2 separate regions of the Homo sapiens genome follow, and region 2 is linked to region 1. Evidence: fine-mapped expression QTL. A gene starts in region 1. The other region holds a variant in brackets. All regions are shown on one strand. Distances are between the middles of the regions.

The links.
Region 2: its variant is fine-mapped to the expression of LCMT1-AS1 in whole blood (TOPMed, PIP 0.93).

The regions. Positions count from the first base shown.
Region 1 is chr16:25,108,454-25,113,782 of GRCh38, reverse strand. It overlaps LCMT1-AS1 (LCMT1 antisense RNA 1), which reads left to right and starts at 2,228. Exons shown (of 3, transcript NR_120306.1): 1 at 2,228-2,387. LCMT1 (leucine carboxyl methyltransferase 1) reads right to left here and starts at 2,041. Exons shown (of 11, transcript NM_016309.3): 1 at 1,787-2,041. The coding sequence starts at 1,899. RefSeq lists enhancers at 1,734-1,893, 1,984-2,313, 2,091-2,618.
Region 2 is chr16:25,080,458-25,085,837 of GRCh38, reverse strand. No RefSeq gene overlaps it. Among named protein-coding and RNA genes, the nearest start is that of LINC02175, 16 kb to the right of the region's middle. The variant G/C (reference allele first, on the strand shown) is at 3,139.

The sequences.
Region 1 (5,329 bases):
GTGCCTGTGATCCCAGCTACTTGGAAGGTTGAGGCAGGAGAATCACTTGAACCCGGCAGGTGGAAGTTACCAGGAGCCAAGACAGCTGTGGCCAATAGCAACTGAAAGCCACAGAAGAAAAAGCTGAGTATAATCCACTCAAATTCACAAATTTCATAAGGGACTCTCTCTAAGACTTTAATACTTGTGTATTTATTAATTTAATCAATCACCACTTACATGGACTACATGCCAGACACTGCTCCAAGTGCTCTACTAATATTAAATATCATTTTTGTCCACACCCACCTATGATGCGTTATTATACTCCCCATTTTACAGATCAGGAAACTGAGCCACAGAAAAGTTTAGTAATTTCCCCGACTTTATACTGCCAGTAAGTGGCAACGCTCAGTTTGACAGAGTCTAGCTCCAGAATCCATGCTCTGAAAGTTTAGTCCCCAAGAACCTATAAAAAGTGCAAGGTTTAATCCAACACACTGGTTTTCCCCACTCTACAATCACTACGTGGCCTCAGCCTCCTTCTCCCACCTTTAAAGCATTTTTTGAGTTCCTCTAACAGTTCACACTCCTCTGAACACTCTCCTACAACTTTCCTATTTTTCAAGCCTTTTCTTCTCACTTTTTTTTTTTTTTTTTTTTGAGACATAGTCTCGCACTCTCATCCAGGTTGGAGTGCAATAGCGTGATCTTGGCTCACTGCAACCTCTGCCTCCCGGGTTCAAATGATTCTCCGGCCTCAGCCTCCCGAGTAGCTGGGATTACAGGCGCCCGCCACCACACCCAGCTAATATTTGTATTTTTAGTAGAGATGGGGTTTCACCATGTTGGCCAGGATGGTCTCGAACTCCTGACCTCGTGATCTGCCCACCTCGGCCTCCCAAAGTGCTGGGATTACAGGCGTGAACCACCGCGCCCAAACTCTTCTCACCTTAAACATCACTGACAAAATTACAAACTCTAATGGCACTGCCGTATTTGTCAGCACTCAACACAAAAAAATCATAATTATATATTTCATAGGTAATTATTTGCTTCCTGTCTCTCTTTTCCAACAAAGCTGTGAGTTCCAGTATGTCTGACACCATGTCTGTCTTGTTCTTGGTGTATTTCCACCATCGAATTCCTACTAACCACTGCAAAGTAAAGGCCTGGCACAAAGTAAGGTCTCAAAAAATTTTGTTGAATGAAAGAATAAATGGTGGACATTCAAGCCTCAAGCTTTCTCTTTCTCTGACACGTACCTCTGCTGGCTACGCCCCCATCCCCACCACCACACCCTTAACAGTGGAGACTTAGTGCGGTACTGGCTCTGCAAAGAGATATTACTTGGCTCTGGGTGGGTTATTTCCCCTCGTCATCCTGAGTTTCAGGTGCACAACAGGGATCACACCAACCCCCTAAAGAATGCAACCTACAAAAGAGAGAGAACCTACACCTCTCATCCTCGTAACCCATCGAGGCTGGAGCTACTATTTGCTTCATGTCTGTCTTTCCAGCAGCGTTTAGCTCCAAGAAGCCCAAGGCCTCGTCTGTCTGGCTCAGGGGCCTGCTCCCATCGACGATACCCAGGCTGGCCCCCTGCCTGGCTCACAGCAAAAGCTCAGAAACGATTCGTTAAATAAATGAAGCCCTGCTCCGTGCACTTCACAGGTGGGAAGCGAGGGTCGTGCGAGGCGGGGGCTGCATCCCTGCCAGCCTTGAGCGTATTCTTCAGATGCAGGCCCACCTCCCACCTAGGCCCGCGCCCCAGATGCCGGCCCCGAACCCCGCGCCCGACAGGCACCTCTTGCACAGGGAAGCATCTTCGCAGGTGCCGCGCACGCCCTCGTCGTCTGCGTCGCAGCTCGAGGTGGAACAGCAGGAGGTGATAGAGGATTCCCTCTGCCTAGTGGCCATGGGCGTGGAGGTTCCTGGGAGCTGTGTCCGCCAGGGACATGGAAGCGGGGTCGACGGGCGGCGGGGGACGGCGCGAGCCACAGGGAGAAAGCAACAGAAGAGGGTAGGGCCCTACCTGGCTCAGCTGGCGCGGCTCAGTGACGCCGCCCACGCCGGCTACCCCAGCAACCTCTCCGCTTATTGGCTCCTCTTCCGAGTCGCTCATTGAGCAATTCTCCTGCCCGCTCAGCCTACGAAGTTGCTCATTGGATAATTATTTTGGCACCGCCCACATAACCCGGAAATTTGACGATAGGAAAAAGAAACTAAACAGTAGGAGAGTATCGCAATCCTTTCTGGGAAGCGTAGTCTTAGGTGTCTGGAGAAGTCGCCCGGTTTCTGCTTGCTGGTCGCGAAATTTTATAGCTATAATTAACTCAGGGCGGAACAGCTAGCAGAATCCTCAGCGTTCGGGCAAAGGGCAGAGAATCCAGCCAGAAGCAACATGTGTAAGTTGTTACATTCAGTCCGGGCTCAGTGTCATTCAATTTTACAAAATTTTGTTGTGTGCTGACTCTGCCAGCGACTGTGCTGAGGGCTTTGCCCCCAAAATTGCCTTCGAAATGTAGTGAGGGGGGCGGGCGTAGTGGCTCACTCCTGTAATCCCACCACTGTGGGAAGCCGAGGCGGGCCGATCACCTGAGGTCAGGAGTTCGAGACCAGCCTGGCCAACATGGTGAAACACCGTTGTTACTAAAAGTACAAAAATTAGCCGGGCGTGGTGGCGGCCGCCTTAGTCCTGGCTACTCAGGAGGCTGAGGCAGGAGAATCGCTTGAACCCGGGAGGCGGAGGTTGCAGTAAGCCCATGTGGCGCCACTGCATTCCGTCCTGAGCGACAGAGCGAGACTCCGTCTCAAAAAAATAAATAAACAAATAAATAAAAGAAAGAAAGAAAAGAAATGTAGTGAGGGAAGTAGTGTGTGGAAAAGTAATACAATAGGAAGCCATGTAGCAGCGATCATAAATGAACTAGAGCTACCAGGTAGCAGCATCAATGGCTGAATCTCAGAAACACGATGTTCAGTGAAAGAAGGAAGTCTAACAACACTTTTGTAAAGTTCAAACCAAGTAAAACTAATGTTGTTTAGAGAAACGTACATATATGGTAAAATACTGTACAGAGAAGGCAAGACATGAGAAAAAAAAATAAAAAAGAATCAGGATATTGGTGATCTTTAGGGAGCCGGGAGGGTAGCACACAAGAGGGGGAGGGAGAGGCAGGGAAGGAGCACATAGACACATCCTCAGTTTCTCACGTGGGAGTGGGTTCACGTGTGTCTGTTTCATTATGAGGCATATTCAAGATGTTTTGGATTTATTTTGTACTAAATCTAGTACAAAATATATGTATAAATTCAAGATGTACTGGGGAAGTCGCCTGGTTTCTTGCTGGTGATGAAATTTTATAGCTATAATTAACTCAGGGCAGAACAACTAGCAGAATCCTCAGTGTTCGGGCGATTGGCAGAGAATCCAGCCAGAAGCAACCCTTGTAAGTTGTATATGTATAATAATGTTTAATATACATTATAAATTAAAAATGTCTTTGTATATTCCATTTTGTTATCTGTCAGTTGTTGGAAGCAGGAAACAGATATACTTTAAGAACTTTGAATTGCACTCATTTTTTTAAAAAGAAAATCAACAACAGAAACCCAGAATACACACCTTGGAGTGAGGTCAAATATCAAATGCTAGCTCAGTATTCTAATGGAGGCACAAGATCTCATTGATAGCCACAGTAGAAATGACAAGAGGGGAATGACTAAGGGTGGAGAGCTTTGCCAGGGGGAATGCTGATGGGATGAAATACACCATTTTCTTGGAGTGGTCCTTTGCCAAAAGGGTAATACAAACTATTGCACAAGCATCATCTCCCAGCTTAGCAGTGTCCACATTCCACGGGTGTTAGTGGATAGTAAGTGTTAACAGCAAGTACTATACGGTGTTAATCCCACAGGTCTGGACAGTGAGACTGGGGGTGACTGGAAGAAGGCGGAGGCAGATGGGTTTATACACTTTTGTTGTTGGATGAGCCTTTGATTCAAAATAGCTGGTGATTCAGAGGAATTTGGCCATCTTCCAGCTGACCTCCAGGGCCAGCTCATTCCATGTAAGTTCCTGGTTGAGGATCTGAAAGTTTATGACAGCGTGGAGTCTGGAGATTGCAAGCTTAGCCATCTCAGGCTAAATGATACCTTAATGCAAGAGACAATGCTGGGGTAGTCTTTGAGCCATATCCCAGCCAGAGAAAGTTCACTGCCAACTAGACTGCATCTTTTGACAAAGTCAGGAGAAGAGTTGTGGAAGTGTAAAAGCTCTTGGACATTAATATTGTGGGCCAAAAGTTAGGCATTCACCATGGAATCTCTCCCCAAAAGGCTACAATGGACAATTGTTGCTTTGGCTCTCCAGTATCTCTTTCTTCTATAAAAAATAGCTAGAGTGGGCTGGGCGCGGTGGCTCACACCTGTAATCCCAGCACTTTGGGAGTCCGAGGTGGGTGGATCACCTGAGGTCAAGAGTTTGAGATCAGCCTGGCCAACATGGTGAAACCTCGTCTCTACTAAAAATACAAAAATTAGCCAGGCATGGTGGCAGGCGCCTATAATCTCAGCTACTAGGGAGGTTGAGGCAGGAGAATCACTTGAACCCGGGAGGTGGAGGTTGCAGTGAGCTGAGATCGTGCCATTGAACTCCAGCTTAGGGGACAAGAGCAAAACTCCGTCTCAAAAAACAAACAAAAAGCTGGCATGGTGGCTCATGCCTGTAATCCCAGTACTTTGGGAGGCCGGGGCAAGTGGATCACCTGAGGTCAGAAGTTCGAGACCAGCCTGACCAACATGGTGAAACCCCATCTCTACTAAAAATAAAAATTAGCCAGGCATGATGGCGCATGCCTGTAATCCCAGCTACTCCGGAGGCTGAGGCAGGAGAATTGCCTGAACCCTGAAGGCAGGGGTTGTGGTGAGCCGAGATTGCGCTATTGTACTCCAGCCTGGGCAACAAGAGCGAAACTGTCTCCAAAAAAAAAAAAAAAAAGCTACAGCTTCTTATGGAAAACTAAGCTTCTCTCCTGGCCAGGCGTGGTGGCTCACACCTGTAATCCCAGTCACCGAGGCGGGATTTGGGAGGCCGAGGCGGGTGGATCATGAGGTCAGGAGTTCAAGACCAGCCTGGCCAACATGGTGAAACTCCATCTCTACTAAAAACACAAAAAATGGCTGGGCATGGTGGTGCGCGCCTGTAGTCCCAGCTACTCAGGAGGCTGAGGCAGAAGAATCGCTTAAACCCAGGAGGCAGAGGTTGCAGTGAGCCGAGATCGTGCCACTGCACTCCAACCTAGGCAACAAGAGCGAAAGTCTGTCTCGAAAAAAAGAAAAAGAAAAA
Region 2 (5,380 bases), 28 kb after region 1:
GTTGTTTCATTCAGTCCTCACAGCGGACTCGTGAATTAAGTGCTGTTATTATCACGTTTTTGCAGATGAGGAAACTGAGGCTCAAAGAAGATAATGTGCCCAAGGTCACCTCGCTAGGAAAGAGTGGAGCTGAGATTTAAACTGTGACTTTAAGCCCAAGTTCAAGGCTTCTTACTAGTTTTAACTACATTCCCATACCCCTTTTAATCAATCATGTAAATAAAATCTTAATTCTTTTAAAAAATTAATATGTGTTTCAGCTTGTCCTGTAGAGAAGACTAATACTTACAAATGGGAAATATTCGTCAAGCTTTATTTTTTCTAGTTTGTCTTATGAAATTAAGTTTTTCAGCCTTTCCCAATATAAAGCTATATTTTATATTAAATATGCTTTTTATTTATTTTTTTGAGACGGAGTTTTGCGCTTTTTGCCCAGGCTGGAGTGCAATGGCGCAATCTCAGCTCACTGCAACCTCTGCCTCCCAGGTTCAATCGATTCTCCTGTCTCAGCCTCCCAAGTAGCTGGGATTACAGGCGTGTGCCACCAAGCCCGGCTAATTTTTGTACTTTTTAGTAGAGACAGGGTTTCACCATATTGTTCAGGCTGGTCTTGAACTCCTGACCTCGTGATCCACCCACCCTTGGCCTCCCAAAGTGCTGGGATTACAGGCATGAGACACTGCGCCCAGCCAAGTCTTAGTTATTTCTACATGTAAGTATTTCATGATCCGTTTGTGATTTGGACATCAAATGCTGAGCATAATGCTTCGCTGACCTCACCTGAGACCTGCATCCACTGAATTTTTACTGTATGTGCTTAGGGCCGAATGTAATTAAAGTCTTGTTTATTTACTTCTTTTTTTTTTTTTTTTTTTGTAAATAAGGTCTCCCGTTACGCAAGCTGGAGTGCAGTGGCAGGTTAATAGCTCATTGTAGCCTCAAATGTAGCCTTCCCAGTAGCTAGTGAAGGCCTTTTTAGAGGGGCTCTTGCTTTGAACAGTAGCAAATATATATTTGCCATTTTTGTAGTGAGTGTCTGCATTTGTGCAGTAAATGAGCTCATGAGTAAACTGAGGAGTACATGGACTCATCTCCTCCTCTTTCTTTTCTTTTTTTTTTGGTTCAACATATTTCTGTTGAACAAATGTACATACACACTGAACAGCTATATCCTGTAGTTCAGTATATTTCTGTTGAATGAATGAGTCTCTACCACTTGTTTATAAATATAAACATTTATGTAATTTTAATAGTGAATAACATACATGTTTTGTAACTTGCTCTTTTCATGTCAGCATATACAGATCTGCATCGTTATTTATAATTGCTTTATTGTACTCCTTTGTGGAAATTCCCCTCTATTTAATCTATTTAATCTTAATAGAGGGGAAATTCCCCTCCATTTAATCTGTTCCCTACTGATAATCACTTAGATTTTTGCCTTTTTATTTTTTGTTTTGTTTTGTTTTCTTTTGAAACAGGGTCTCACTCTGTTGCCCAGGCTGGAGTACAGAGACTCGATCACAGCTCACTGCAGCCTCAGACTCCTGGGCTTAAGTTGCCCAGGCTGGTCTTGAACTGAGCTCAAGCAGTCTGCCCACCTCAGCTTCCCAAAGTGCCGGGATTACAGGTGTGAGCCACTGTGCCCAGCCTATGTTTTTATATTAAACAGTGTTATAGCAAATACAAGTATATGTGCATGTTTGCAGGAATCGCTAGTGCAGAGTTTGCACATTATGAATAGCCACTGCCAGGCTTTTCAAGTCCTTTTTTTACCAATTTACAGTTTCACTGAATTGGGTGAGGAAATTTCCTGCCCTACACCCTCTGTCTCACTTTGTTTTGTGCTGCTGTAACAGAATATCTGAGACTGGGTAATTTCTAAAGAACAAAGATTTATTCTTACAGTTCTCAACGCTGGGAAGTCCAAGGTCAAGGGGCCCACATCTGGTGAGGGCCTTCTTGCTGCATCATCCCATGGTGGAAGGTGGACGGGCAAGAGGGCATGCTTGCCTGCAGGAGAGGAAGAGGGGGGAAGGGGCCTGTACTTATTCTTTTATCAGGAACCCCTCCTGCGATAACTAACGCTTTCATGAGGGCAGGGCCCCGTGACCCATCCCCTCTTAAAAATCCGCCCCCTCAACACTGCTGGATGGGGAATGAAGTTTCCAACACATGAACTTTGGGGAACACAGTCAAACCATAGCATTCTGCCCCAGCCCCCCAAATTCATGTCCTCTCACATGCAGAGTACATTCATTCCATCCCAACAGGTTTAATGTTTTCATTTGTTCCAGCACCAAGTCAAGAGTCCAGAGTCTCATTTGAATCAGATACAGGTGAGACTTTGGGCAAGATTTCTCCTAAGGCAGATTCCTCTCCGCCATGGGCCTGGGAAATTAATGTGCTTCCAAAATATGATGGTGGGTCAGGCATAGGACAGCAATTCCCATTCCAAAGGGATTCGTTTCCTGTTGTTGCTGTAACAAATCACCACAAAGTTAATGGCTTGAAGAATACAAATGGATTATCTCACATTTCCGGAGATCAGAAGTTCGAACCAGATCTGCCTGCACTACAATCAAGGTGGCAGCAGGGCTGATGAATGCCTTCCTGGACACGTGAGGGGAGCATCTGCCTCCTCACCTTTTCCAGCTTCTTGGGTCTGCCCATGTTCCTTGGCCTCTTCCTGCATTTGTCAAAGCCAGCAGCATTTATGCTGTGCCTTTCTTCCAAAGTTGTGTCTTCACGGACTTCCTGGGCAACTATGAAGGACCTCTGTGATTACACTGGGCCTGTGGGGATAATCCACGCTAATCTCCCTTTATGCTGATTAGCAACTTTCATTCCATCTCCAACCTTAATTCCCCTTTGCTATGTAATCTAACACATTCACAGGTTCTGGAGATTCAGAAATGGACATTACTGGGGAGGGGAGAGCATTTTTCTGCCTACTCTAGATCCAAATGTCAACCCAAGGCTGAACAGCCCTGATTTCAAAGGACATATGCACACATGACACATATCCACACGTACATGCATTATACACACATACCTGTACACATTTAGACAGATATGTGGAGCATCTTTACAGGTCAGAACACAAATATACACCTCTACCTCCTTTTTATGGCTGCA[G/C]AGTAAGCCATTCTGTGGATATACCATGTTCTACTTAACTGCACGAAAGCAAGGCAGCACCACCAAACCCTCCAGCCTCATATTCAATCTAACTGAACTGTGGACTGAAGACAGCTCAAGACCGTCAAACCTCCACATCACAAACGGTTCCTCCAAGGCTGTAGGGATCTACTTGAGCCTTCATAATAGCCAACAGTAGCAGCCATATTTGCTAGGTGCTTTCTATGCCCCAGACACTCACTGGGTTGACACCTACATCTATTCTAATTCTCAAACCAGGCAAATCGGATAGGATCCACTATTACTCCCATTTTACATATAAGGAAAGTGAAACTCCAAGAGGTAACTTGCCCAGGACCCCAGCACTAATAAGTGGGATTGTGGGATTCAAACCCAGAGGGCTTGACTAGCCACCCCTAGACTTAGTTTATTTAAACCAGGGAGCAGACTACACCTGAAGGCTCAATCCAGCTCACTGCCCATTTTTTATGGCCAGAAAGCTCAGAAGAGTGGTTATTTTTAAATGACTAGAAAAAACCCCAAAAGAATAATAATATTCGGTAACACGTGAAAATTATATGAAATTCAAATTTCAGTGTACATGAAAGTTTTATTGGAACACAGCCAGGCTCCTGTGTTTATGTGCTATCTATGGCGGCTTTCAGGCTACAACAGCAGAGTTGAGTTGTTGTGATAGATACCGCCGTGTGATCTGCAGAGCTCAAAACTGACTCTCTAGCCATTTATCCTTTCTCCAGTCACAGAGAATCTGGTCCTCAATCTTTCTGACTGCTTCACGCTGAGAAGGGGCATTGTGGGATAATGACGAAGAACGAAAACGTCATGCCTATAGCTGAAGTACTCACAAGTGCCTGGCTGGCATCCAGCTTGATGGAACATGGTAATATGGGTCCTTTTATCTTGGTTTTAGAGCAACATTTCAAGCCATGCTAAGATGATTAATAACATAGATAACATCCGGATGCGGTGGCTCACACCTGTAATCCTAGCACTTTGGGAGGCCGAGGTGGGTGGATCACAAGGTCAAGAGATCGAGACCATCCTGGCCAACATGGTGAAACTCCATCTCTACTAAAAATACAAAAATTAGCTGGGCATGGTGGCATGTGCCTGTAGTCCCAGCTACTCGGGAGGCTGAGGCAGGAGAATTGCTTGAATCCAGGAGGTGGAGGTTGTAGTAAGCCAAGATCACGCCACTGCACTCCAGCCTGGCAACAGAGCAAGACTATGTCTCAAAAAAAAAAAAAAATAATAATAATAATAATAATAGCCAGTGTGGTGGCACACGCCTGTAATCCCAGCTACTCGGGAGGCTGAGGAAGGAGAATCGCTTGAACCCGGGAGGTGGAGGTTGCAGTGAGCCGACATCACGCCACTGCACTCCAGCCTGTGTAATGGGAGCAAGGCTCCATCTCAAAAACTAAAAATAAAAAATAACATAGATAATAAAAATTTTAAAAATACCACAGAATATGGAGTGGATCCCTTGGGAAATCCAAGAGAAGACTCAGAGTTCTGTGTTCTCTGTATGGTTTCTTATTTCAGGTCTTTGGCTGGGCTTTGAATACTAACTTAAGGCCGTAGAAGGGTTCACACAACCATGAGTGTTTCCTCTAGAGGGATCCAAGAGGGACTAGTTTTACTCCAGTACGGTGAGTCCATGGGTAACACTGGCAAACTTGACGGATGGGTGGGTGGTCAGCAGCACCGCAAAGGAGCTGACCCATTGTGCTTGCAGCTGGTCTTGAGCCTGGTGGGACTGCCAGGTCTTCAGCATGACCTGGTTCCCCAGTTTCAAAGAATAAAGAGGCACAAGGAATTGGAACCTGTTAGAAGCAAACTCAGAGACTAGTTAACATACTTCCTAATGATTTTATATAAGAACTAGCTTCTCTTTCTGGAGAGGAAAAATCCTCAAGTATCAGGGAATCTGGAGAAATGGTCTCCTGTACAGTATTTCAAAGGGGCTAAGAGCCAACCCATTTCTGGGGTATTCATATCTTCAGCAGGGCAAGGGGCAAGACTTTTCCCCAAGTAAGATTTGTCTCCTGGCAACTGGGGTTCCCTTGGTCACAAATGGGTCTGTTCAGTCAATGACGGGCTTAGGACTTTATTTTTAGTTTGGCCCCTTTTGGTCAAGATATGCCAGAGGCAGCATCAATAGCCAAGCTTTTATTTTGTCCCATATCATTGCTGGGGTGGTATGGCTGCCTGCTCTGGG